Homo sapiens: one gene and its partners. The protein of the gene in region 3 interacts with the protein of the main gene of each other region in a pairwise test. Each region holds a gene or a part of one and is shown on either strand. Other genes may lie near its edges. The genes, in order: KRT35, ZBTB44, SMYD1 and HMG20A.

Region 1 (7,350 bases), on a different chromosome or scaffold from region 3:
GGCTGAGTTAGGCAGGTCTGCAGGTGGGGCCTAACTCTGCCAGCTCTGGACACCCCTCTGATCAGAGAAGCATGGCCTGGGAGAGGTCTGAGGGCCTCACGGTTGGTTCCTTTGCCCCTGCTCCAGTCTTCACTTGAGAAAACAGGCCCAGAGAGGGCAGTGACTTGTTCCAGGCCACAGAGCAGTGAGTGGCAGAGACCTGGCCATCACCTGGCTATTCTGACCCTGGCTCTGGAGCTCTTCTCAGTACAATTTCTCTCTCTCTCTCTCTCTGTCTCGCTCTCTGTCTCTGTCTCTCTTCCCTCCTCCCCCTCTCTTGTGCTCACTCTCCTCTGGGCTCTCCTCTGGGTCATGGCCAAGACATCCATGACCTGGCTCTGCCTCATGTCATCAGCTACTTGCTGCTAAATGGGACTCTTCAATCACTTGCTGAGCAAGCCAGAGGTGCAGCAAACTTATCAGACAACAGGAGAAGACGTGCATAGGTAGCATCAGAGCATCCTGCACTGAGCCCGACTCTGCCACTCTGTGCTATATGCCCGGTTATGTCATGAGACCTCTCTGGTCTCAGCAGGTTCATCTGTGAAATGGGGCTGCCAGGAGGTTCTGATGAGACAGTGTGTGTGTAGCTTCCAAAAAGTGGTAGCTATCAGTGTTGCTCTTACTACAAATGCAGAGTCCCTGGCTTCAGAGTGTTGAACAGGAACCCCCACTGCATGGGCCAAGTGCTTTGCTTTGTATCTGGCAGGATGCTATGGTGAGGGCTGTGCTGCCAGCAGTGTCCTTGGAGCTGGAGAGTGAACCCAAAGGCCTCAGCCTCAGAGGATGCACCTAGCTTTGGGCAGGGGGGGCAGTTGGCATGGTTCTCTCACCTGCCCTGCCCCTTCCCTCTCACTGCTCCACTCATGCTCTAGGGCCTAAGTCTGCACCCCTGACCCTGGCCTGAGGCCAGTGTGTGACCAGGCGTGCACAGAGAGCATTGTACCTCTGTGCGGAAACAGGCAGGGGTCCAGGAATGGAACGAGTCTCCGGGAAACAGCTGAGCTGCCTTGTCACTGTGGATGAACCACACAGGGCATGACCTGATAAGTAATCACATCATCAGCACCTTGTGTTGTACAGTGCTTTCCCTTTTTATGATCACTCTCCAGTTTACAGGGCACACTCATAGCCTCATCTGATGCACGCAATCAGCCCTGTGTGGCTGTGAGCTCTTTATTTATTCATACTTGCCTAGCTTTTAATTACATTGTCCAGAGCATATGTATCAGTTAGGAAACACCTCCTATCTCAACCTCACACACACCCTTAACTGAGTTGCAATTGAAATCACTGACCAACAAGCAAACCAGAATTCAACAGTGTTGTGGGGGTAGGTGGCGACTGGTCTAAAGTCACACAGCAGGCGGCTGACTTAGGAGCCTTCTTAGGTCTTTGGGCTCCTATTTCATTGATATGGAGAGAGATATAGAAAACATTCAATAACATTTCCGCAGAGTGAATATGATGTTTTATTTCAAGGCGGTATGGTTTTTCTGATCCTTTTTGTACTTTCCAGATATGCTATCTGACTGCCTTTCTCATTCACATATACACATCAATTAATCAACAAAGAGATAACAACGGAACATGGCATACACAGCTAATCCAATCTTAAGGCTCAGGCCTATCTAGGAAGGAGCAGGGGTGGCGGAAGCGGCTGGAACAAAGAGTGGATAACAGGCACAATTCCCGAGGAGCTCACGTCCAGCTGTGGAGACACCTCGCCCCCTCGCTCCCAGCAACTGCACTGGGATAGCAGGAGCGGGTGTGGGCAGGGTTTCAAGTTTTGGGGAAGAGGAGAAATCACTGAGGGCTGGGGTGACCAGGAAAGGCTTTGGGGCAGATTTGGATTTGATGGGCAGAAAAAGGAGGAAGGAGGGCAAAGGGCATTTTAGGGCCGTATTTAGTGTATCCGTGGCATGATCTGGGGACAGCCTGGACCACATCTGAGCAGAGTGCAAGGATCCTGTAAGGAAAGTTACTAGGAATGTGCTAAACAATGTTAGTTCTTGCTGATAAGGGGTTCTAGATAATCATGTCATTTAAGAAAAGCATGCTAAAAAGGAACAGAAATAGATCAGACCAATTTACAAAATACCTTAAAACAGCTTGAAAAATATTACATATATGTTTTATAAAGTTATCTAAAAATCTTATCAAGAATTTTTTAGTCACAACTTTAGCACTAAATTGGTTTATGAGATCCATCTCCCTTGGGCAGAATGGCTTTTGGCCCAGAAAACACTTTGTTCTTGGCCAAAGGGGCTGGTTAGTCTGGACAGGTGCTGCTCACCTACACAGAGATGCCGGATCCCCTTCCATCTCTGAGTCTCAGTTTCCTCATTTACAAAAGTAGGAATAGTAGGCTGGGTGTGGTGGCTCATGCCTGTAATCCCAGCACTTTGGGAGGCTGAGGCAGGCAGATCACGAGGTCAGGAGATCGAGACCATCCTGGCTAACACGGTGAAACCCCGTCTCTACTAAAAATACAAAAAAAAAAAAAAAAAGAAAAATTAGCTGGGTGTGGTGGCGGGCACCTATAGTCCCAGCTACTCAGGAGGCTGAGGCAGGAGAATGGCGTGAACGCTGGAGGTGGGGCTTGCAGTGAGCTGAGATCGCACCACTGCACTCCAGCCTGGGCAACAGAGTGAGACTCCATCTCAAAAAAAAAAAAAAAAGAAGTAGGAATAGTTAAGATTGACTGTGTTTTCCTTTCCCCGCTCCCTACTCTCTTTTGTTTCCTCCCATTCTTTCTTTCCTTTCTTAACACAATTCACCGTGGGAAAAATCACTTAATTAATTAATTAATTCATAGACATCTAGAAGCCCTGCACTGTGCTTAACACTACAGAGATTTAAAAAAAAAGTACAAGGTCAATCCTTGCCCCCATGCTTACAGTCTCCCTGGGAAAATAGGGCTGAAACACAAGACAATCAGAAGACGTCAGTTAATTGGAGGCCAAGAAATCTACCAATAGTCACTGCCTTGGGCATTCAGAGCTGGGAGGGCACAGCAGGGCTGGAGCAGGGGCCAGACTTCGGGGGAAGGCCTGGCCAGGACTGGGCCCTTAGAGGCAGTGGGGTGGGCCTGTGGTTTGGAGCTGCAAGGCCTGGGCTTTAGCCTCCCTGGGAAGCCTGTGTGGACCTTGGGTAAGCCATTTTCTACTCTGACCATTGTCTCCTTCTGTAGGAGTCAGCACCTTTCTATCCACGACTGTGTTGGAGGGTGTGTGTGAGGCCTTAAAGAAGATAGCATGCCTTGAACAGTTGTACAGATGCTTTTTCAGCTGTGATCTGGGACAGGCTCCTGAAACAGTCCAAGCCTCCTCTATTTAATGGGCTATTGGTGATGCCAATCTCATGAGTTTGTGTGAGGACTGAATAAGAGAATGCATAGAGACAGATCAGCGTGGGGGCTGGTGGGTACTAAATGCTCAGTGAATGATGGTTGCTACCATCAGCCGGGTTATTGATAGGGCTGTGTGAAAAGAGCTCCAATTCAGGCAGCCAGAAGGAAGGGCTTCTCCATTTCTCAACCAGGGCTGGGGAAGACATGCCCTCCTAGATGTCATCATGGGCAGGTGTCCAATTAACTGATCTCTAGGCATTGTGGCTAGAACTTAGGCTCTACAACCTGCACAGACTTCCTGGCAAGGGAAAGAGTAGGGAAGTGTCCATCAGGGCTCTGCAGTATCTAGGGTGATAAGCTGTCCCATTTTACCGAGGACTGAGGTTTCCCTGGCATATGGAACTTTCGGAACTAAAGCCAGAAAATTCCTGGGGAAACCAAGAAAATTGGTCACCTTAGCCATATTTTCTGGGCCAATTCAAGAGCCTTCTGTGTCTCCCTGGCTGCAAGACCCCTGCCTTCCTGCACCAACCAAGTTTACCCTTCCATCTTCTGGGAGCACCCCAGAGACCTCCTCTACTCCCTCAGGCCAATAAAAGAAGTCAAAGTTGGAGAAAGTCAAGACAGTGGCTGAACTCCCATGCTTGCTTAATGCGGAGGCTGAGGTCTGGGCTCAAATGACAGGTCCCTTTGAAGAACTGACAGGGACTTGGTCTTCCCAGTGATGTGGGGTGGTGGAGATGAGTCTTGACATAGTAATGGGGCTCCTATTTTATGAGACTGGTAAATTTTCACAGGAAACTAAATAACAGGTTAATGAGGGGTTTTAATAGAAAGTGGTGTTAACTTTAATGAGGAGAAAACACTTTGTAAAGGCCAACCAATGCCCACTGGGGCAGAGATATAAATCTGGGGTAAGGAGCTGCTTCTCTGCTTTGGGGTGTCTGGCCTCAGAGACCTATCAATTGCATCTGAGTTGCAGGGGCCATGGCTTCCAAATGCCTCAAGGCCGGCTTCTCTTCTGGGTCTCTCAAGAGCCCAGGAGGGGCCAGTGGGGGCTCCACTCGTGTGTCCGCAATGTACTCCAGCAGCTCTTGCAAGCTTCCAAGTCTCTCCCCTGTGGCCAGAAGTTTCTCTGCCTGCTCAGTGGGTCTGGGCAGAAGCAGCTACAGGGCCACCAGCTGCCTCCCTGCTCTCTGCCTCCCTGCTGGAGGCTTCGCTACCAGCTACAGTGGGGGTGGGGGCTGGTTTGGGGAGGGCATCCTCACTGGCAATGAGAAGGAGACCATGCAATCCCTGAACGACCGCCTGGCCGGCTACCTGGAGAAGGTGCGTCAGCTGGAGCAGGAGAACGCCAGCCTGGAGAGCCGCATCCGTGAGTGGTGTGAGCAGCAGGTCCCCTACATGTGCCCTGACTACCAGTCCTACTTCCGGACCATCGAGGAGCTCCAGAAGAAGGTAAGAGGTTCAGAGTGGCTTTGGATTCCCAGGAACTTTGTGTCACCAGCATTCATTGGTAGTTCTGTTCCCATAGGGCATGTTGGAAGTCACCAAGCATGTTCATCTCTGTGGCCTCATTTGCTCCTCCCAATAACCTTAAGAGGGAGGTATCATTAGCCCATTATACAGTTGAGAACACTGAGATTCAGGCTGGGTAAGCGACCCAGATGGCAGTTACTGGAGCCAGAGCTTGAACATCAGGTCTATGAATGAACTCTGTGACCTTTGGTGGTATTGCCCAATCCTCTGAGTCTTCTGAGTTTTCATTTCCTCTTTTATTTAAAGTCAGGGGATTGGGTTTGATGTATTTAGTGCAGTGCAGTTCAGGCTTCCCATAAGTAACTCAGGGAAGAAAATGCCTGTCAGAGAAGTTTCTTTCTTGCCAAGGGCCCATATCCACTTCTCGCCTGGCCCAAAGTTATAGCTGGCTCCTGTGAGGGACCATTTATGACCAGAGAATCCCGGGGTATGTTGTTGGCAATGAAATGCCCTGGGCCCCCAGTAGGCCTGGGAGACAGGGAGATTGGAAGAAGCCTCATTTCATCATGCCAGGCCTTTCCTGTTGCATTTTCATGCAGCTATCTAACCTGAGTAACAGGTCACAGATACACTGCACTGGAAGAAACCCTGGACTTTCCATAGTTGATCCCTAGAGCCTGCCCATAACACTCCAATGCACATGGAGTAGCAGAGGTCTAGGATGGGTGACTTCCTCCTTCCAGAGTCAGCCCTTGTCAGCTTTAGGGAGCTCCAACAAGTGGAATGTCCTTTCTTGCAATGAAATAACTTCTTCATATCTCCAGACTCTATGCAGCAAGGCTGAGAATGCCAGGCTGGTGGTGGAGATTGACAATGCCAAATTGGCTGCAGATGACTTCAGGACCAAGTGAGTTGTCCTGCTTGTCATGTGGTTGGGGGCTGCTAGAACTGGACACAGGTGATGCCTGAGCTCAGGGTTTTGGCTGTACTCTGTCATTGGGGCATAAAAGCAGGACTCACAGCACCTGGACAGTCTGAGGGCAGGCCTGACTTAGATGCAAAAAGGAAATGCAGACTCAGGTGCCCTGTTCTATGCCTGCAGGTATGAGACGGAGGTGTCCCTGCGGCAGCTGGTGGAGTCAGACATCAACGGCCTGCGCAGGATCCTGGATGACCTGACCCTGTGCAAGTCTGACCTGGAGGCCCAGGTGGAGTCCCTGAAGGAGGAGCTGCTCTGCCTGAAGAAGAACCATGAGGAGGTGAGCATGGGGGAAAAGGTGAACACGGCACAGCAGGTGAGCATGGGGGAGGAGGTGAACATGGGGAGGAGGTGAGCATTGGGGATGAGGTGAGCATAGGGGGAGGTGAACATGAGGGAGCAGGTGTGCATAGGGAAGAGGAGGTGAGCATGGGGAGCAGGTGAGCATAGAGAGCAGGTGAGCATGCAGAGGAGGTGAGCATGGGGAGGAGGTGGGCATGGGGAGCAGATGAGCATGGGGAGGAGGTGAGCATTAGGAGGGGTGAGCATGGGGAGGAGGTGAACATGAGGAGGAGGTGAACCTTGGAGGCAGCCCTCTGGGAATTAGTACTCATCCTGGTCTGTGCTATAGGAAGTGAACTCACTGCGCTGCCAACTTGGTGACCGCCTCAATGTTGAGGTGGACGCTGCCCCACCTGTTGACCTGAACCGAGTTCTGGAGGAGATGAGGTGCCAGTATGAAACCCTGGTGGAGAATAACCGCCGGGATGCTGAAGACTGGTTGGACACCCAGGTAGGTACCTGGAAACAGTCAGTGCAACAGGGGTATGTGGTGGCTCACATGGAAGTGACCCTGGGGCTCTGAATCAAGAAATCTAACTTTGAGTCCCATCTCTGTTTTGACCTTGCTGACAAGGTCAAAACAGACCCACTTCAATTGACCTTGCTGACAAGGTCAAAACAGACCCACTTGGGCAGGTTGCTGTCCTCTGAGCAACAATGCCCTCCAGTATAAAATAAATGAGTGGGACTGGGGAATCGGGAATGTCTTTCTTGGCTCATGATTCTAACCGGCCTCTGTAGCTCTCTGAAGCCAAGTCCCTGGTGTGGCTGACCAGGTTCTGTGTGTGTATGTTTCAGAGTGAGGAGCTGAACCAGCAGGTGGTGTCCAGCTCAGAGCAGTTGCAGTCCTGCCAGGCAGAGATCATCGAGCTGAGACGCACGGTCAACGCCCTGGAGATTGAGCTGCAGGCTCAGCACAGCATGGTGAGCCCCAAGGCAGGGTGGAGCTGCCTCTGGACCAAGCCGAGGAGCACACAAGCTCCCCAGCTTCCATGCTTTGACCACACAGGCGGACTCCAGGGGTCCATGTTCTTGAGCACCAGGGGTTCTCTATGCAGAAAAGAGGGAATGAGGGACCAGCTCCAGTCACAAATCCCCCAGTGGTAAAGGACAAGAGACCTGTAGCAACTGACATGTCCAGGCAGTAGGTCCTATATTT
Region 2 (7,034 bases), on a different chromosome or scaffold from region 3:
CACACCCGCCTAATTTTTATGTGTTTTTTTGTAGAGACAGGGTTTTGCCATGTTGGCCAGGCTGGTCTTGGACTCCTGAGCTCAAGCAATCCGCCTGCCTTGGCCTCCCAAAGTGCTGGGATTACAGACGTGAGCCACCACACCTGGCAACCTTTTTAAATTCATCTTGAAATCTTTTTTTTTTTCTTTCCACTTCCTTTTTTTCTTTTTCCCATCTTTCTTTTCCTCTATACATTTACCTGCATAAAACATTAACAGGGATGATTATGTAATGGATTGTTCAGTGTTTACACTGGCATTGCCTGCTGCATGCTCACATTTAGAAACAGGAATGATAATACGCCTACTGATAGAGATATGATGACAATCAACTAACTATTAAATGTGAAGCATTTCAAATACTGTCTGGCACATAGAAGACACTCTATAATTGTCATTATTTACAAACTGTTGCAGCCCTGCAGCTCATTAAAACGCTGGTTCACAGGCCGGGCATGGTGGCTCACACCTGTAATCCCAGCACTTTGGGAGGCCTAGGCAGGCCTATCACCTGAGGTCAGGAGTTCAAGACCAGCCTGGCCAACATGGTGAAACCCCATCTCTACAAAAATACAAAACTTAGCCAGGCATGAGGGCGGGTGCCTGTAATCCCAGCTACTCGGGAGGCTGAGGCAGGAGAATTGCTTGAACCCGGGAGGCAGAGGTTGCAGTGAGCCAAGACCACCCCGCTGCACTCCAGCCTGGGCAACAGAGCAAGACTCTGTCTCAAAAACAAAACAAAACAAAAAAAAACATTGGTTCACAGACTTCACTGATTGGACAGTTTGGAAGGCAGATAAGGAGAATATATTTCTATACAGTCCCTACCTTGAAGTTTCTCTGTCACTACCATCTTTCAGCTTTTTAATTTAGTACAGTGGCCACATGAAAATGATCTAAATCACATTTTAAACCACTAAAATATCAATTAATGCTTTATTTTATGTATTTTTTAGGACATTTCTGATTTATTTGCATCCTTGAAGAGCATCTGTAGAAGAGGAAGTAAAAGATGGGTGTGAAAACATTTACTCATAGCTCCTCTTCCCACAGCCAGGAAATGCTTGGAAAGCTAAATATGCTGCGAAATGATGGACATTTTTGTGATATCACTATTCGTGTCCAGGACAAAATCTTCCGGGCACATAAGGTGGTACTAGCAGCTTGCAGTGATTTCTTTCGCACCAAACTTGTAGGCCAAGCCGAGGATGAGAACAAGAATGTGTTGGATCTGCATCATGTTACAGTGACTGGCTTTATACCTCTTTTAGAATATGCTTACACAGCCACTCTATCAATTAACACAGAAAATATTATTGATGTTCTAGCAGCAGCCAGCTATATGCAAATGTTCAGTGTTGCCAGCACCTGCTCAGAGTTCATGAAATCAAGCATTTTATGGAATACACCCAACAGCCAACCTGAAAAGGGTCTAGATGCTGGACAAGAAAATAATTCTAACTGCAATTTTACTTCTCGAGATGGGAGCATTTCTCCCGTGTCCTCAGAGTGCAGTGTGGTAGAAAGAACCATTCCTGTCTGCCGAGAATCCCGGAGAAAGCGCAAAAGCTACATTGTTATGTCTCCTGAAAGTCCTGTAAAGTGTGGCACACAAACAAGCTCACCCCAGGTATTGAATTCTTCAGCTTCCTACTCAGAAAATAGAAACCAACCAGTTGACTCTTCCTTAGCTTTTCCTTGGACTTTTCCTTTTGGAATTGATCGAAGGATTCAGCCTGAGAAAGTTAAGCAAGCAGAAAATACCCGGACTTTAGAATTACCTGGCCCATCTGAGACCGGTAGAAGAATGGCTGATTATGTGACTTGTGAGAGCACAAAAACTACCTTGCCTTTAGGTACCGAAGAAGATGTCCGGGTCAAAGTAGAAAGATTAAGTGATGAGGAGGTCCATGAGGAAGTGTCCCAGCCTGTCAGTGCATCTCAGAGTTCGCTGAGTGATCAGCAGACAGTTCCAGGAAGTGAACAAGTCCAAGAGGACCTTCTGATTAGTCCACAGTCTTCCTCTATAGGTATAATGCCTTCTGTGTTTTTCTTGGTGCTATAAAGTCAATTCAAACATTTTTAAGTTCCTGTTAGATAAAAAGTTTTGTGCTCGGTCATATAGGAAATATAAAGAAGAGTAAAACATGGTAACTGGATTTGCTTGAGATGCTATTAGCACTATCGTTTATTTTTTACAAGTTGCACATTGGGGAAGATAAAAATAATTGAATGGTATCTGCTGGGACAAAGGCAGATACACATACACAAAAAAGCAGTTAAATCCAGTTTGTGTTTTATTCTTCATTAAAATATGTATTGAAAACTTACCATGTGCCAAGCAAACATTTATGATACATAAAGAAAAACACATAGTCCCTGCAATGACAATTAGGTTAATCATCTAATTGGGGAAGCAGATATGAAAGTAAATGATTACAGTGAACTATCAAAAGTGCTCATCTGGAGGTGTGAACAAAGTAGTATGGTTGCAACAAAGGAAAGAGCAAGTTACACTATATGTTTGAGTGGGTCTTATGCAATAAGTAAGAGTTTACCCAAGTGTGGGAATGTCATTTCTGTGAAAACATAAAAACACAGAACATATATGCAAACACAGAGGTATGGAAGAGCATTGTGTGTTTGGTAAACAGTGAATTCAGTGCAAAATGATGTAAGTAAGTACAGATGCCTGAAACTGTAGGGAATAGTGGGAGATCAGACAAAAGGAGTGGTTGAGCGCAGGCTGTAAAGAGCCTCGAATCCTAGTTTCAGTAGGGGTTGCATTTAAGTGCAGGTGATGGAATCCCTTCTGCAGTAACTTAACTGTAGCAGAGTTTTATTTATTTTTTCTTTATTATTTATTTATTTATCTTTTTAGATTGAAAATAAAATGATTTATAGTTGTTTTCTCTGGCAGTATTTTTTTCTTTTTTTTAATTCAAATTCTGGGGTACATGTGCAGAACGTTCAGTTTTGTTACATAGGTATACACATGCCATGGTGGTTTGCTGCACCCATCAACCCTTCATCTGCGTTACGTATTTATCCTAATGCTATCTCTCCCCTAGCCCCCCATCCCCCAACAGGCCCCACTGTGTGATGTCCCCCTCCCTGTGTACATGGGTTCTCATTGTTTAACTCCCACTTATTAGTAAGAACATGTGGTGTTTGGTTTTCTGTTCTTGTGATAGTTTGCGGAGAATGATGGTTTCCAGCTTCATCCATGTCCCTGCAAAGGACATGAACTCATTCTTTTTTATGGCTGCATAGTATTTCATGGTGTACATGTGCCACATTTTCTTTATCCAATCTATTATTGACAGGGATTTGGGTTGGTTCCAAGTCTTTGCTATTGTGAATAGTGCCGCAGTAAACATATGTGCGCATGTGTCTTTATAGTAGAAAGATTTATAATCCTTTGGGTGTATACCCAGTAATGGGATGGCTGGGTCGAATGGTATTTCTGTTTCTAGATTCATGAGGAATCGCCACACTGTCTTCCACAATGGTTGAACTAGTTTACAGTCCCACCAACAGTGTAAAAGCATTTCCTATTTCTCCACATCCTCAACAGCATCTGTTGTTTCCAGACTTTTTAATGATCACCATTCTAACTGGTGTGAGATGGTATCTCATTAAATTTCCATATGAAATTTAAAGGAGTTTTTTCCAATTCCGTGAAGAAAGTCAATGGTAACTTGATGGGGATAGCACTGAATCTATAAATTACTTTGGGCAATATGGCCATTTTCACGATATTGATTCTTCCTATCCATGAGCATGGAATGTCTTCCCATTTATTTGTGTCCTCTCTTATTTTCTTGAGCAGTGGTTTGTAGTTCTTGAAGAGGTCTTTCACATCCCTTGTAAGTTATATTCCTAGGTATTTTATTCTCTTTGTAGTAATTGTGAATGGGAGTTCACTCGTGATTTGGCTCTCTGTTACTGGTGCACAGGAATGCTTGTGATTTTTTATCACAAAGTGTTCAGGAATAAAAGTCCAGGGCTGGTACAGTGAATCTGCAATATAATCAGTGGCCTAGGCAACTTGTATATTTATAAACTGCCATCTTTACTTTGTTGGTTTCATCCATAAGATGCTCATTTCATCTTCAGCTTTGTATTCTAGAAAGGGGCAATGCTTTGTATCAAGAAAGCACCTATGTTCTCAGAAATCCCTAAAAAACTTCTGCTAGTCTGTGTCACATAGTCTTTCCTAGCTGCAAGGGAATCTGGGAAGATAATGTATATTAGTTGGGTACCTAAATGCCTTGAACAAAATTAGAGCAAAATGGATATTGAGTATGCAACTAGCAGTGTCTGCCACAAGTAGGCCAAGTAAGCTTGGATTTTATCTTAGTGGTAGGTAGTAAGGAGTCTACATTAAAGGGATAAAAACAAAAACATGCAGATATTTTAGGAAAACTGTTATTGACATGCAGTGAGTTTGGTTTTACAGAGACAGTCTCAGAGACCAATTGCAGTGCACTTATCTTGGTGTGAATGAAGACTTAAAACCATGTGAAAGAAAATAGATATTACAAGACTTTGTAAAGAAAGACTTAGTACCTGATGATACTGAATATGTATATTGAAAGAACAGGAGAGGTTAAAGTACTCTGATGACTAGGAAATAATGGTAACACTTTATTATATTCCATTGATTCTAAGTCACAATTTTTCATATTTTGTTATTTCTGAATCCAGATATGTCTTACAGTTGGCAGTCTTCTACAGTTGCTTTTTTCTTCCTTAGTGCTATAGAGAATAATGGCAATCATATGAATCAATAGCATTTTAGCATCTATTAAATGTAGTTAGTGCCGTATGAAAATCAGTGGAAGGTGGTGGGAATCCAGTTTTGAGAGTAAATTATCAAGGTCACTTCTGTGTAAATTGTGCTTGGATGATGATCAAGCAGTGTCATTTCAAAAGCAGTAGAAAAGATAAGTGAGATTCCCAACTTGGGACTTTTCTACTAGTAGTGGCAAATTCAATCTCAATAGGAAAAACAGAAGAGCCAAAACCAAGGGGATACCTTGGGGAATACCTATATTCAGGTTTGGGAAGGGATAGAAGAAAAGCCACTAGTGAATAATAAAGATTTGTCCAAAATATTGGAGAACCGGGAAGACCATATTAACTTTGTTAGTTTCTTGTGCTTTTACCCTCTGTGTGAGTTTCCCTGGGCTGCTGCAACAAAGTACCGCAAACTGAATGGTTTAAAAAAAATTTATTCTCTCATAGTCAGAGGCCAGAAATCTGAACGACAGGTGTTAGTTCCCTTTGAAGGATCTTTCTCTCTTTGAAGATTGTAGGGAAGAATCCTTCCTTGTCTCTTCCAGCCTGTGGCAGCTGCCCACAATCCTTGGTGTTCTTTGGCTTGTAGCTCCAGTATATGATATTGTGCTTTAGTATATGCGTTCGTCTTCACATGACCTTCCCTGTCTCTCTGTTTTGCCACTGGCTTCAAATCTCTCTCTCCCTAAAAGGACACCAGTCATTGGATTCAGGTCCCACCCTAATCCAGCATGACCTCATCTTAACTTGATTACATCTGCTAAGACCCTATTTCCAAATAAGGTCACATACATTGGTAGCAAGGATTAAGATGTACTTTTTCTTTTTTTTTTTTTTTTTTTTTAAGATCTGGGATGCATGTGCTGAACATGCAAGTTGTGTTTTTGGGTATTTTATTTTCTTTGTAGCAATTATGAATGGAAGTTCACTCATGATTTGGCTCTCTGCTTGTCTATTACTGGTGTATAGGAACGCTTGTGATTTTTGCACATTGATTTTGTATCCCGAGACTTTGCTGAAGTTGTTTATCAGCTTGAGTTTTGGGGCAGAGACAGTGGGGTTTTCTAAATATACAATTATGTCATCTGCAAACAGAGACAATTTGACCTTCTCTCTTCTTATTTGAATACCCTTGACTTCCTCTCTTCCTATTTGAATACTCTTTCTTTCTCTTGCCTGATTGCTCTGGCCAGAACTTCCAGTACTGTGTTGAATAGGGGTGGTGAGAGAGAGCATCCTTGTCTTGTGCCGGTTTTCAAAGGGAATGCTTTCTGCTTTTACTCATTCGGTATGATACTGTCTATGGATTTGTCATAAATAGCTCTTAATATTTTGAGATATGTTCCATCAATACCTAGTTTATTCAGAGTTTTTAGCATGAAGGGGTGTTGAATTTTTATTTTTAATTTTTATTTATTTATTTATTTTTGAGACGGAGTCTCACTCTGTCACCAGGCTGGAGTGCAGTGGTGTGATCTCAGCTCATTCAAGCAATTCTTCTGCCTCAGCCTCCTGAGTAGCTGGGACTACAGACGCATGCCACCACACCCAGCTAATTTTTGTATTTTTAGTAGAGATGGGATTTCACCATGTTGGCCAGGATGGTCTCGATCTCTTGACCTCGTGATCCGCCTGCCTCGGCGTCCCAAAATGCTGGGATTACAGGCGTGAGCCACCACGCCCAGCCAGGGTGTTGAATTTTATTGAAGGCCTTTTCTGCGTCTATTGAGATAATCGTGGTTTTTGTCATTGGTTCTGTTTTACGTGATGGATTACGTTTATTGATCTGCGTGTGTTGAACCAGCCTTGCGTTCCAGGGATGAAGCCAACTCGATCCTGGTGGATAAGCTTTTTGATATTCTGCTGGATTCAGTTTGTCAGTATTTTATTGAGGACTTTCACATCAATGTTCATCAGGTATATTGGCCTGGTATTTTCTTTTTTTGTGTTGTGCCTCTGCCAGGTTTTGGAATCAGGATGTTGCTGACCTCATAAAATGAGTTAGGGAGGAGTCCCTCTTTTTCTGTTGTTAGGAATGGTACCAGCTTCTCTTCGTACCTTTGGTAGAATTCAGCTGTGAATCTGTCTGGTGAATCTGTCTGGTGCTGGGCTTTTTTTGGTTGGTAGGCTATTTCAGGAGAGTTTATAGCATGAAGGGGTGTTTTTTTTTTTTTTTTTTTTTTTGAGGTTTT
Region 3 (7,563 bases):
ATTACAAGCACCTGCCATCATGCCTGGCTAATTTTCGTATTTTTGTAGAGACAGAGTTTCACCATGTTGGCCAGGCTAGTCCTGAACTCCTGACTTCAGGTGATCCGCCCGCCTGGTTCTCCCAAAGTGCTGGGAATACAGACATGAGCCACCACACCCGGCCAAAACTATTATTTAAAAGGCAGTAGAATATACAACACAAAACCTAGGATAATTACCTTTGGAGCAGGCATGCAACAGGATAGAGAAGATGTAACATATTGGAATATTCTAGTTAAGTTGGTTTGGTGTTGATTTATTGCTATGCTTTATATAATATATGTTAGAATATATACAATATAACATATAATATATATGTTAGAATATATAATACACACTGTTTGAAAGAATTAATTTTCATTTAATGCAGTGCTCAACTAAAAATAAAATCTTTCTCCACATTTGTGTGGAAGAGTAGGAAAGCCTGTCTTGCAGTAAGATGGATTAAAACAAGCCAGTTTTGTACAGTGACTTTTGTGGGTGACTCAGTCCCACCTCTGCAATCAAGTTTCTCATCTATGGTGGCTGAGCCTCACCAGGAGCCTAAAATGCATAAAACTTTCCTTTAATGCCTCTTTGGGCTGTCTCTGGTATAACCAAAGAAAGCACAGCTCCCTCATCTATGCAGTGACAAGTTTGGGTAAAGCATTTTTTGAAAAAAAAACTATCTCTTTTAGATTTTTTTTCAATCATTTTAAACGTCATTTATACCAATTATCCCACTTTTATTACCATTGTAAAAATAATATATGATTTTATGTAGCATTTATCTGCAATGTATATGAAGGTGTTTTTATAGTTGTTACTTCAAATGAATGACAAATTATTTATAATAACAAAAACATGGAAACAATCCAAATGGCCAGTCATCAGCAGGTAATAGAAGAAGACGTAGCCCTTAAGTACTATGTCTCTGAAGAGTGTATAATAGCACAGAAGATGTCAAAATTATTAAATGAAAAAGCATAATAGCTTGTATAATGAGTATATTACAGCCAAATGAAACCTATGTTTTAAAACAAACCGAAAATAGATACCCAACATGTTAAGAGTGGTTATCGCTGTGTGATGTCTTATCTTTCTAAATTTTCTAAAATGACAATGCCTTGCTTTTATAATGGAATGAAAGCCCATTCAACTTTAACCTTCTTGAAATGGAACTGATTGGCTAGATTGACTTTGGGGAATTGGAAGCAGCAAATGGAGATGTTCTTCACAAGGCCAGGCAGTAACTCACTGGCAGCGCCAGAATTAGTGTTGACAGTCCCTGTGTTTCTGGGTTGTTTTCACTCTGAATCCAGCTGGCTCCCTAACTGTACTCACCCCTCCCCTGACACATACACATACACACACACAGATTAATGAAATAAGACAAGCTCCCCCTGAAAAAGTCACCTCAGCCCCTTATTTTCCTCAAGTGGTGGTGAGCCATATGCCCCAGTTCACACCCTTTTCCCTGAAGGTCTTAGTGGGCAGGAAGACAAGAGAATGTGAATACTAATCAAGTTATCTGTGGGAAGCAGTGCCCTTTCCCAGGGTGGTCAGTGCAGCCAGCCAACCACAAAGCCTAGGTTATCAGACTCAAACCACATAGATGTCAAGCAGGTCACCCCAACCTTGATCTCAGAAAATATTGACAATTTAATGTAATCACCATGTAGGTTTGTTTAAAATGAAGATTTATTACTAATTTAAAAGCTTGGTAGTCTAGTGTGGCCAAGGTCGTGAGGAAGCGGGAATGTAAATTTAATAGAGCCTGTTTGGAGAGCCTATAAAACTGAAAACATCACATCCTACGGCCCAGCAATTCCTCTTCTAGTCCTGTGCCCTGGAGAACAATCGAACATATGTACAGGTAGACACGATCAAGGATTTTCATTTTATTTCATGAAAAATTAAAAACTACCAATTGTCTCTCAATAGGGGAATGGATAAATAAAATGTCATATATTTATAGGATGAAATATTTAAAATTAAGATTGATGATTCATATGGCATATGAATCTATATGGATAGCTCTATAAAGGAAATAGATCTTTGGAATTTAAAAGAAGTATCTATAGATTTAAAGTTCCTGCAAGGATAGACATCAAAAACGTGTTGTTTAGGGAAAAGAGTGAGTTCTAAAATGACATCTGAAGTATGACACCATTTCTGTAAAAAAAAAAAAAAAACCAGACAGACTACAGCCATCCATCTTGTTAAGTGCAGATATATGTATGTAATAGCACAGGAACATTCTAGAAGGAAATACATTGAAATAATAGCAGGGGTAATATCTGAGGAAAGACAGAGGGGACTGGGATTGGGTGATACTCAGATTTTTCAAGGGAAAGTGGATTCCTGGGTTATTCATAATTATAAATATACAAATAGTTCATAATTTTTAAAGTCTCAGCAATTACTTTATCTGGTAATGTATTTATAATAAAAAGAAAGCTAAAAATATAGAGCTTTCTGTCGGAAAATGTTTCCCACAGCACCACACCCACCTTTCCACTCCCAGCACACCCTCTCAGCCAAGTTGGCCAGTATTGGGAGAAAGTGCCCCCGAAGCCTTTGCTCACCTTCACCACCCTTCTAGGAGCCACAGCAAATCACACTGGCAATGATCCCTTGCAGAAAAATTTGTGCCAGAAAAATTAGCTCTCAGAAGTGCCATTTTGTTGAAAAAAGAGCACATGAATTTTATCCCTTCCCCTGATGATTTTTGAGAGCAAAGTATTTTAGAGTTTGGCCCCAGCCAAACTAACAGGAGAGAAGGCAACTCCCCACATTTCATACCTGTCAAAAACCACTGCGGAATAAGCCCGCTCAGCAAAGATGATATCTGCAGCCCAGAACTCCTTGGTGGCCTTCAGACCCCTTCCTTTGCCCTCAGCGGTGAAGACCTCCACGTTCTCCATTCTCCCTATTGTCATCTCAGAGACTGTCAGGCCAGCGCGGCAGTTATTTAACACTGAGCCAAGTCTCTTGTCATTGCTATTTCAGCACCTTCAGCATCCCAAAGAGCAAGACTATAAATGGACAAGCCACCTCCCCTTCCCTACTCGCTCTCAGCTACTGGGCCCTCACCTCCCCCTCTGCTACTTTTCCTGGAGGTGGGGATGGGACAGACAAGAGAACAAGTGAACTGGGAAGAGTTTCATTCATCACCCAGCAAAGCCGACAGAACAGAAAATGACCATGGGTTAATATGGCATAGGGCCTGAAAAGTTTTGAGAGGTTCCATTGCAAGCAGAAGCTATCTGTATGTGCTAAGTTCTGAACTGCAACAATCCTGTTCGGCTTTAGTTGGAGTAGGGAACATTTGGTCAGGAGGGTATTTTTAGCAGCCAGATGCCTCTGTCAATCAAAAGCAGACAGCTGGAATGGTCCCATAGAAACAAGGTGATATTTGCTGCTCTGGGACCCTTCAGCTGTCAGGCTTGCACTTTCTCAAGTGAGATGGGCCCTCGCCCCACCCTTTTCAGTCTCTCTCCCAAGGGTGGACTGTTTAGCAGCAGAAGCTAAACTGAGGGCTGGGCACGGTGGCTCACGCCTGTAATCCCCACCTTGGGAGGCCGAGGCACATGGATCATCTGAGGTCAGGAGTTCAAGACCAGCCTGACCAACATGGTGAAACCCCGTCTCTACCAAAAATACAAAAATTAGCTGGGCGTGGTGGCGGGCGCCTGTAATCCCAGCTACTGAGGAGGCTGAGGCAGGAGAATTGCTTGAACCTGGGAGGCAGAGGTTGCAGTGAGCCGAGATCGCGCCATTGCACTCCAGCCTGGGCGACAGAGTGGGACCCCGTCTCAACAAAAAATTAATAAATAAATAAATAAATAAATAAATAAATAATAAGAAGAAGCTAAACTGAGCCCTTGGCATATACGTAACAGTACTATTTAGGCTCCAAGGGGGCATTTTTCCTCTCCAGTATCACCTGGGGCTCTTACAGCACCCCCTACTCCACAGCATGGAATTCCCTGTTCTTAGCACTGCTGGTGATGCTGGTATGCTGGAGGCAGGCTGGATACAGACAAGGCAGGCTATAAAAATAGCAACCCCCATCTCTATCTTTCTATCAAATTTCCTTTAACATGTGTCTGCTGCCAGGAAAATACCAACGTGCTCTGTCCTTCTTCTTACTCAGGAGTGAGGACACTGGAAAGACGAATCTAAAATCCCCGTTGAACTAAATGCCACTGTTCTTGGCTATCAGGCAGCTTTTACTGAGGTTTAAAAGAAATACACTTGCAGATCTGGAGCTCTGGCTTGACTTCCATGTAAGATTTTTAGTTCCTGGGATGCATCTATTTCCTGGTGGGGGTTGGGGGTGGGGGTGACGGCGGGGGTGGGGGGCAGTGGGCAGGGGCATTTCCTGGATTTTTCTGAGTGTATGGTTTCTGAGTCAGATGAATCTGAGTTTGAATTCTAAGCCTGCTACTACCACTTGAGATGGAACCTGTGAAACAAGGGTGATAATTTCTACCTCACTGGATTGTGAGAGTTAGATAATATGTAAAAGGGGATAACACAGCACTTAGCACTTCATAAAGTACTCATTAAGTGATAGCTATTCTATTTTATTTACTCTGTCACATTATCCTCCCTAAACTATCACGATGTACCAGAAATTTTAACATGTCTTCAACCAATTGAATCTCCCAAAACACCTTCGACTCTTGGAAGCATGTTGAAAGTTCATTGTCTGATCATATATCCTGATTTTTAGGTAAGAATACATAGCCATGACAGCAAGAGAATATCTCTGCAGCTTCTGATGTACACTGAAGAGCAAAATAACTTAAGACATGTAAAGTTAGGTGCCTCAAAAAGTAAACACTGCATGCTCCCAAGGGGAAAAACAATTCTACAAAACAGAGAGTTAAAAAAAGAGAAAGAGGCCGGGCACAGTGGCTCACGCCTGTAATCCCAGCACTTTGGGAGGCGAGGCAGGTGGATCACAAGGTCAGGAGATCGAGACCATCCTGGCTAACACGGTGAAACTCCGTCTCTACTAAAAATACAAAAAATTAGCTGGGCGTGGTGGCCGGCGCCTGTGGTCCCAGCTACTGGGAGGCTGAGGCAGGAGAATGGCGTAAACCGGGGAGGCAGAGCTTGCAGTGAGCCAAGATCACGCCACTGCACTCCAGCCTGGGCAACAGAGCAAGACTCCGTCTCAAAAAAAAAAAAAAAAAAAAAAAGAGAAAGAAGGCCAGGCGCAGTGGCTCATGCCTGTAATCCCAGCACTTTGGGAGGCCGAGGCGGGTGAATCACTTGAGCCCAGGGGTTTGAGACTAGCCTGGGCAACATGGTGAAACCCTGTCTCTACCAAAAATACAAAAAATAAACCAGGCATGGTGGCGCATGCCTGTAGTCTCATCTACTCAGGAGGCTGAGGTGGGAGGACCACTTGAGCTCATGAGGCAGAGGTTGCAGGGAGCCATGATCATGCCACTGCATTCCAGCCTGGGTGACAGAGCAAGATCTTGTCTCAGAAAAAAAAGAGGGAAGGGGGGGGGGGGAGGGGAGGGGAGGGGGGGAGGGGAGGGGAGGGGGGAGGGGAGGGGAGGGGGGGAGGGGAGGGGAGGGGAGGGGAGGGGAGGAGTAGCAGAGCAAGCTCTTGTCTCAGGAAAAAAGAGGGAAGGGGAGGGGAAGGGAGGGGAAGGGAGGGAAGGGAAGGGAGGGGAGGGGAGGGAAGGGAAGGAAAGCGAAGTGAAGGGGAGGGGAGGGGTTTTCAGGAAAGGAGAGGAGAGGAGAGGAAATATTAAAAAGGTTTTTTCCCTGTAATCCCAGCACTTTGAGAGGCCAAGGCAGGCAGATCACGAGGCCAGGAGATTGAAACCATCCTGCCTAACATGGTGAAACCGCGTCTCTACTAAAAATACAAAAATTAGCTGGGCGTAGTGGCACACGCCTGTAGTCCCAGCTACTCAGGAGGCTGAGGCAGGAGAATCACTTGAACCCAGGAGGCGGAGGTTGCAGTGAGCCGAGATCATGCCACTGCACTCTAGCCTGGGTGACAGAGCGATACTCCATCTCAAAAAAAAAAAAAAAAAAAGGTTTTTTTCAATCCAGGTTGACTCCCAATGAATACCCTGTATCCACATTGCCTGGCAACTCAGGGTCTTGCAATAACTTGTCTGCCCTCAGGGGCCAGGGGCTCAGCCTGGCTCAGATGAGCTTGTTCCCTAGACTAGGCACTCTTGGAGCAGGTTCAGCCCAAGCCACGGACAAGGAAGAAATTTACCAGCCCCAAGACCATATGGAGAGAGGAAGCCCAGGACTTTAATTATACCTGTGGGCCTCAACCTTATCAGAACAATGGTTATTATATTATTAAAGGGTGGTAGACAGAATAACAGGCCCCAAAGATGTGCAGATTCTAATGCTTAGATCTGTGAATATGTTACCTTATATGGCAAAAGGGACTTTGTGAATGTGATCAAGTTAAGGATCTTGAGATGAGAAGATTATCCTAGATTATCCTGGTAGGACCAATGTAATCATGAGGATCCTTATAGGAGGAAGGCAGGAGGGCCAGGGTCAGAGGAGATGCGACAATGCAACCAAGAGGGTCAGAGTCAGAGAGATATTGAAGGGGCTGTGTTGCTGACTTTAAAGATGGAAGAAGCGGCCATGAGCCAAGAAACTGGAAAAGGCCAGGGAACAGATTCTTACCCTAGAACCTCCAGAGGGAACACAGCCCTGCGGACCTTGATTTCAGCCATGTAAAGTCCATTTCTGGCTTCTGACCACCAGAACTGTAAGATAATAAATTTATGTTCTTTAAAGTCTCTAAATTTGTCATATTTTGTCACAGCAGCAATAGTAAATATAGTAAATATTTACTATATTAGTCTCATTATAGTAAATATTATGTAACATGCTTTTTGTTACTTTAAAGTGAAATTCTTACATAATATAATTTATTCGTTCTTATACCTAAGAAAAATGACTAGTCTAATCTAACAAAGGTGAAAGAAAATCAAAGTTAATTTGTAGTAATATCTATTTATTGTAAATTAAATGTGTAAATGTGCTCACTATGCATATGCTTGGGTACAACTATATTAGAAGATGAGATAAAATGGCTAGATGTTTGTACCTCTAAGTGGAATCACTATGATAGTGAGAACAAAAATGCAGATTGATTTTGAGGACACAAATACCATATTGTTGCCTGTGACCATAATTTTCTGAAATGGTGAGCGACTCTTAGGGGAGTTCTAAACAAAATAAAGTTTGATCTTTCTTTGGTTAACAAGAAGTTGCATTGCTGGAAAATTCAGCATATATTAAAACTTTACAAAAACTACTTTACGATTACTTACAAAATGGATTTCCAGACTCAGACAATCATAAACTGGCTTTTTGCCTACCTGAAGAGCACATACAGATATTTGAGGCTGTGCGGGGTGGGCAGAGAGTCTTCATTGTACCAGGCTGTCCCCTGCTTCTCAGGGGATCTAGCATCTCTGGCCAGGATTAAGGACACAGAGTTGACAGTAGTTCCCAGACTGTTGGTGGGGAAGG
Region 4 (7,034 bases), on a different chromosome or scaffold from region 3:
TTTTCACCTTACTGCTTTGCTGTCTCTATTTCATAGCCTTCACAGGTATTCAAATGAGAATACCCTTTACGTGACTTTTCATTATTTAAGCAAAAGTTTAGAGTGTCTACTATATGCCAGTCACTGTTCTCAGGACTTTGAATACAGTAAATACGGCCAAATATTCATATTCTACTGTAGTTTACTCTCTAATTTACAAATTAAAACTAGAATTTTGCTCCCTTGGTATTCCTAAATAAGATCTATGTTATGATCGTTGTTCAGACTGGGTAAAGAAGCAGCCCTAAACTTGATCTCTCCTGGTCTTAATCTCTAAGCCATTCTAAACCCAGATTTGAATGTTTCAGCCTAATTTTTCTCCAGACCATAGAAGCCCCTGTGTTAAATATGCAGTCCCTTTCATTGATACATGTATCATTTTCCTACCATTCTAGCTTCTTTTGTATTGTGAAAACAAATGAGAGTGAACAGTGGGGAAAATATGGGATCAGATAGGCCCAAATTCAGCACTGGTCTCTGCATTTTACTGGCTGAGCTTACTAGCTTGGTAACCATGAGCAATTTATTTGACCTCCCTAAGCCTCAGTTTTCCTAAATCCAAATGGGGTTGTTTGGTGGAATCAGAATGTTGTATGTAAATCTCCTGGTCCAATGCCTGGTGCCAGAAGCTTCATTAATGCAATTATCTTACCCCCAATCTTGCTTCTGCTACTCTGGCTATTGTGATTTGCCCACATGTCTGTTTTAAGCTTTACATTTTCCCCACAGTATGGGATGCAGTGGTAGACTGACTGAGCTTCAGCCTTGTCCCCCTATCAGCATGCTCACACAGTTGTCAAGATTTAATTTTTTTTCCTTGTGGGAAGGAGAAATCACTAATTTCCATGATTAGAAGATATACAAAATAGAAAAGTTTCAAGAAAAGGAATCTTAATCTTGGCACAAATCACTAAGGTAATTTGAATTGTTACAGGCAGACTTTCAACTCATTCTCCTAAACTTATTTAAATACGAAAACCAAAAATGACCTTTCACACTATGATCATACCTCACATTATTCATCTACACATCCAAACGGGATCGCCTCTGGGGGGAAAAAAATCTGTACTGCACCCAGCATTAATATTTTTTTTTGCTCATGCTATTTTCTGCCTGAAACACTCTTTTTTCCTAGGAATCCCCATCTATCAAAATGCCACTTTCTTTGAGGTCGTTTCTCAAGTACCACATTTAAGAAATATTTTCTGATATCCATCCTCTTCTACACTCTCCCAAACTGTACACGTTCTGTCCATTAACTCTCCAGAGCATTATACCTTTCTTACAGCACTTACTGTCCAGTGCTCCTCTTGTTTGTTTTTATTGCGTTGTTGTAGGTAGAGTTTATGCCTTCCCTAAAAGGCTGCAGACTAGGTCTTATTCCACTCTGTGCTGTCATACCTGGCACAAGACCATTCACATCATAGGTATTCAGTAAATATTTGTGGACGTGAGCTGGCTCTTGGAGTATGACAAAACTGATCAATAACTTTTGTCCACAATTATGCCCAGCATCAGCACAATGGCTATCATACATTAGACACTCAAATATCTATAAAATGAAAGAGTGAATAGTAAGTCATCATTCTCTCATTTGGGAGCTTCTTAGGGTGTCAGATAAGCATATATTAAGCACCTCCTATATAACTGGAGCTGTAAGAACTGATCTCTGCTCCTCAATTTAATTGGAAAAAAGTAAATTGTTACTAATATCTGCAGACTTTGAAGATGGTAGGTGTTTGAGTAGGGATGGCATGGAGAGCTTAATATAGAATTGTTTGCATTGTGAGAGATACCCTCTGCTACCTGAACTCAGAAACCAAATAGATTTTTATATCAAATATTTGGACACTTAACTTGTATTTCCACTCCTAGGTATATATCCAAGAGAACTTAAAACATGTTCACACAAAAACTTGCACACAAATATTTGTAGCAGCCTTATTTGTAAAAGGCAAACTCAAATGTCCATTAATTATTGGATGACTAAACAAAATGCGATATAGCCATACAATGGAATATTATTCAGCAACAAAGAGAAACAAAGTAGCAATACCTGCTGTAACATGGATAAAACTTGAAAATATTAAAGTGAAAGAAGTCACATACAAAAGGCAACCTATTATGTGATTCCATTTATTTAAGATGTCTAGATTAGGCAAAACTAATAGAGACAGAAAGTACATTAGTGGATGGGAATGGGAGTGACTGCTAGTATGGAGTTTCCTTTGGAAGTGATGAAAATGTGCCAGAATTAGATAGTGGTGGTGGTTGCATAACCTTATATACTAAAATATCTTGTATACTAATATACAGTTGACACCTGAACAATGAGGGGGTTCGGGGTGCTAACCCCTGTGTTGTCAAAAATCCATGTATAACTTCTGACTCCCCAAAAAGTTAACTACGTAAATAGCTTACTGCTGACTGGAAGCCTTACCAATAGCATAAATAGTTGATTAACACATGTTTTATATGTTACATGTACTATGTACTGTATTCTTACAATAAGCTAGAGAAAGAAAATGTTACTAAGAAAATGATAAGGAAGAAAAAATATGTTTACTATTTATTATTCGTTAAGTGGAAGTGGATTATCATAAAGGTATTCATCCTTGTCATCTTCACATTGAGTAGGCTGAGAAGGAGGAAGAGGAAAGGTTGGTCTTACTGTCTCAAGTGGTGGAGGCAGAAGAAAATCAGCATATAAGTAGACTCATGCAGTTCAACCCATGTTGTTCAAGGGTCAACTGTACAAAAAAAATCCTGAAATATACACTAAAGGGGTCAGTTTTATGGTATGTGAATTATATCTAAAAGAGAGAGATACTTAGACTTGAAGAATAGAGAATTTTGAATGGAGCCAGAAGAAAGAAGCAAGAGGTGTGAAAGCAAGGAAATGATCATTCTTTCTCAGATCCTAGAGAGAAATATAAGCAGCTAGGTACAGGGCTAAAGGTATGTTAAGGATCAGGTGAGGATGGATATGAGGATAGCTTCTGGGTTTTTGTCTTAATGTAGCAGGGATTTTGGTAAATACTTAGACTACAGAGGTATTAACAAAGGAGAAAAACATCTTATGACCTTGAAGGAAGCTTCAGATTTCTTCTTGATTAGGTCAAGGATGTGGTATATGGTCTTTTTGGTTTCTGTGTTACGGTCAGCTGAGTTTAAAGAGTGGGAGTATTCTAAGGTAAGGAGTCTAGTAGCAATCAAAACAAAGTTACTGGGGAAGATGGGAGAATAGAGACTAGACAAAGATGTTAGAATTTGATTCTAAAGCTCTCCTCAGGTAATAAAAATAGATAAATCTTAATGAGAAGGAACCAAGGGCAGTGATTTGGAGAAGTCAGTACAAATAAAGGTATTCATTTGAAGAAATATTTGAGTGCCTTTTATGTGCCAGGCACTATTAAATAAAACTATAGCTATTTTCCTTATTTGACTTTTTTTCTGAAGATAAAATCTTATGAGTGTGATTAATGGTTCTACAAGCATGGGTAGTTCTAGATATGATACCTACATTTCCCTAAAAGATTGTACTGATTTTTAATGATAACAGCAATGTATAAGGATGTTGTTTTCACCACGATTTTACCAGCAAAAATATTTGGCTAGTTGAACACACATAAAATTATTGTTCTCTTTGCTTATAATCTGATAAGTGTTTCCATACCTTGGAACCTGGATCTGTTGGAACATGAAGGAATTCAGGACCCTTATACATGTTACCCCATATGGCTTCTTTAAAGGATATGGATTTTTGAGGATCCTAGAAATCAAAATTCTCTAATTTTATTCAGCTCAAAAAAAAATTTTATTCAGTGCTGCTGTCCTTATTTTCTGAATAATATTCAGATTCAGACCACACTGAGCCATAATTCCAATTCCCACTTGACTAACATTTATGTAGTATTGTGCTAGGCACTACATGTTATCTTAATTCTAATAATTTGGCATTTTTCCATATGAGAAAAATAAGATTTAGAAAGATTAGATTACTTGCCCAAAATCACTTAACCAGTAAGTGGTAGAGACAGGATTTGAATGCAGATCCTCTAAGGCCAGTGTTTATTCTCATACTGCATGATCCCTCAGTATCACTACTAAAATTTACTGGAGGATAATGGAAAGTGGAAAATCTGAACTGGAACTTGGGACAATCAAGCACTGACTTACCTGTGTTCATAATGAAGCATTTAGCAGAGATGTTGTTTGTTGTTTTGTTTTGTTTTTACTGGGGAGGCTATAGTACATAAACAGAGCGAAAGATCTTGGTATGGTTAAACCCACATTTTCAAGGCCTTCTGTGTTCTCCCTGATGATCAGGTACCTACTACCCCAAAATCTGTGATGGTAACAAAGAAGGAGGAAGGCAGCTGTAGAAAAGCAACGGCCTTTGGGTATACCCAGTAAGATTTATGTGATTGTAGAAAGAGCAGGCAAATGGCTTGGCCTTCAGAGAATCCCACAAAGTAAAGTAACCTTTTAAAATAGTAACTTAAAGTCTGACATAAGATTCTTAACAGGATATTCATCACAAGATAAGATATTCAAAGCATAGCGTGTAAGACATTCAAAGCATATCAGCAAAAAAGGAGAGATTCCTTCATTTTTATTGAAGTATGGTATACTCACAAAACAAATTTAATATCAGGAATATAAAACAAGAGATACGATGTTCCAATTCTGGCTTTAGTCGGATATTATAAAATTTAATCCCAATTTATAGATAAGGCAATTCAAGGCTCGAGATTACACACCAAATAAGTGGACTCTAGGCTGGGTGTGGTGGCTTCTGTAATCCCAACACTTTGGGAAGCCAAGGCAGAAGGATCGCCTTAGCTCAGGAGTTTGGGACCGGCTTGGGTAACATAGTGAGATGCTGTCTCTACAAAAAAATAAAAAATAGCCAGACATGGTGGTATATACACATGTGGTCATAGCTACTCAGGAGGCTGAGGCCAGAGGATCGCATAAGCCCAGGAGTTCAAGGCTGTGAGCTGTTATCGAGCCACTGCACTCCAACCTGGGCTACAGAGCAAGACTCTGTCTCAAAAAAAAAAAAAAAGGAGGGGGGAGCCTCTAGAACATAGGCCTTTAATCTGTGTGGTTGTTTTGCAATTTATATGTATAATTTTTAAATAATATGTTGGCCGGGCACAGTGGTTTGTATCTATAATCTCAACACTTTGGGAGGCTGAGACAGGAGGATTGCTTGAGGCCAGGAGTTTGAGACTAACACAGGCAACATAGCAAGACCCCATCTCTACTAAACAAAATAATAATAATTTAATATGGTGGGTTTTTTTGTTTTTTTTGTTTTTTTGAGACGGAGTCTTGCTCTGTCTCCCAGGCTGGAGTGCAGTGGCGCTAGTGAGCTCATGCAATTCTCCTGCCTCAGCCTCCCAAGTAGCTGGGATTACTAGCGCTTGCCTGCTTCAAAAGAAATGATTTCCAGCACCCCATTTTTTCTTTTCCAGCCTCAAAATTCATATCTCCTTTTTTTCCCCCATGTCCACATGTCCTTCATTCCTATACTTCATAGCTTTAATTCCTGTTCTCTTGATACAAACCTTCATGTTTGTTGCTTGATGGCATCATAATTATCATAACTTTTTGGCTTAATAACAGTAGCAGTTATATCAACAAATAATAAAATGTTCATACTTTTGAGCCAATAATTCCACATATAGAACTTCATTCTGAGAAAATACTTTAAATAAGAAAAATAGTTAAAGGCACAAAATGTTAATAGCACTGATATCTATACTGTCTAAAACTTGAAACCTTCTAAATATTCAACAATATAATAATGCCTAAGCAAATTATTGCCTATCTACTCAGTGGGCTGTAAGACATTCATTTTTCACAATAGCGTCTTTAAGAATACATTGAAAGATGTTGTAAGAATGTTTTTGCAAAAATGAAAAGGAGAAACATCAGAAGAAAAAGTAGAAAAACTAATGTGATTGGTGTCTATTTCTGAAGCATTTATATTTTCTATATAATAATAATTTACATTTACTGACCACTTACTTGTGTCAGGAACAATACTCAAGCAACATTATAGAAGCAACAATTTGTAGTTATTGAAAACTGGTGTTCTAGAATCAAATCTGAGCTTCATCACTTACTAATATGTGGTCTTGAAAAGGAAATGGAGGATAACTATGTCTACATTAAATTATTAAATCTATATAAAGTATTTGGCACATACAAAACCTACAATAAGAATGTTTTTGTTATCAGACATTTTATAAATATGTCTCATTTAATCTTCACATCCTCACAGTAACCTCATTAGATAGTGTTAACGTTCATTTTACATGAAAGAAAATTGAAACTTCAAATGTTTAAATACTCTAGGTTAAATAACTTGCCGAATCACTTAACTAATAAGCAGTAGAGTTTTTATTCAGAGCCCAAGCTATGGTTTCCACTTATGACTCTGAGAGATGAGGTTGCTGCAGACTAATGCTTTTGCTAAGAACAGGAAAGATGAGAATTAAAAAGAAAAGTGAAGGCATCAGAGACCTGCTGAGGCATCCAGGACTTAAGAAACCACAACCATAGAACCAAAGGAGCTTCAGAGAAGTGGGCTGATGTTCCATGCTTCTCTTTTTTCCTAGGAATTTGCTAATTCTTAGAGCATGACAAGATGCTGTGAAACTTAGCAGAGGGTTTCTTCTAAAAGCAGAGAAGCTGTTAGTTTTATGGGGCGGAGCAGACAAAACTTGGATTTTAGAGATCTCCAGGTAGCTAGTTCTTGGGTCAAGATCCCTAGAGAAGGACAGTACCCAGAAACTTTTTTAAAACTTGTTTTCCCCTCACAGTGTTTGCTAGGCAGAGTCTAGAACTGTAAGAAAGTTAATTTGTATTGCTTTAAGCCAATAGCTTTGGATAACTTGTGACAGCAACAATATGAAACTATTACAGAGACATGAGGAAATGATGAAGAAGTCTAACATACATATGACTGGAGGAGAGAAAGT

What was found.
Region 1: the proteins of SMYD1 (region 3) and KRT35 interact in binary tests that used the Homo sapiens proteins (3 or more experiments, as listed by UniProt).
Region 2: the proteins of SMYD1 (region 3) and ZBTB44 interact in binary tests that used the Homo sapiens proteins (3 or more experiments, as listed by UniProt).
Region 4: the proteins of SMYD1 (region 3) and HMG20A interact in binary tests that used the Homo sapiens proteins (3 or more experiments, as listed by UniProt).

What each region holds. Positions count from the first base shown.
Region 1 is NC_000017.11:41,478,126-41,485,475, reverse strand, and holds the start of KRT35 (keratin, type I cuticular Ha5), read left to right. Parts: upstream 1-4,324; 5' UTR 4,325-4,378; coding exon 4,379-4,849; intron 4,850-5,694; coding exon 5,695-5,777; intron 5,778-5,972; coding exon 5,973-6,129; intron 6,130-6,480; coding exon 6,481-6,642; intron 6,643-6,989; coding exon 6,990-7,115; intron 7,116-7,350.
Region 2 is NC_000011.10:130,255,891-130,262,924, reverse strand, and holds part of ZBTB44 (zinc finger and BTB domain-containing protein 44), read left to right. Parts: intron 1-995; 5' UTR 996-1,051; coding exon 1,052-2,069; intron 2,070-7,034. UniProt on the Homo sapiens protein: May be involved in transcriptional regulation.
Region 3 is NC_000002.12:88,063,262-88,070,824, reverse strand, and holds the start of SMYD1 (histone-lysine N-methyltransferase SMYD1), read right to left. Parts: upstream 3,001-7,563; 5' UTR 2,961-3,000; coding exon 2,824-2,960; intron 1-2,823. UniProt on the Homo sapiens protein: Methylates histone H3 at 'Lys-4' (H3K4me), seems able to perform both mono-, di-, and trimethylation. Acts as a transcriptional repressor. Essential for cardiomyocyte differentiation and cardiac morphogenesis.
Region 4 is NC_000015.10:77,423,868-77,430,901, forward strand, and holds part of HMG20A (high mobility group protein 20A), read left to right. Parts: intron 1-7,034. UniProt on the Homo sapiens protein: Plays a role in neuronal differentiation as chromatin-associated protein. Acts as inhibitor of HMG20B. Overcomes the repressive effects of the neuronal silencer REST and induces the activation of neuronal-specific genes.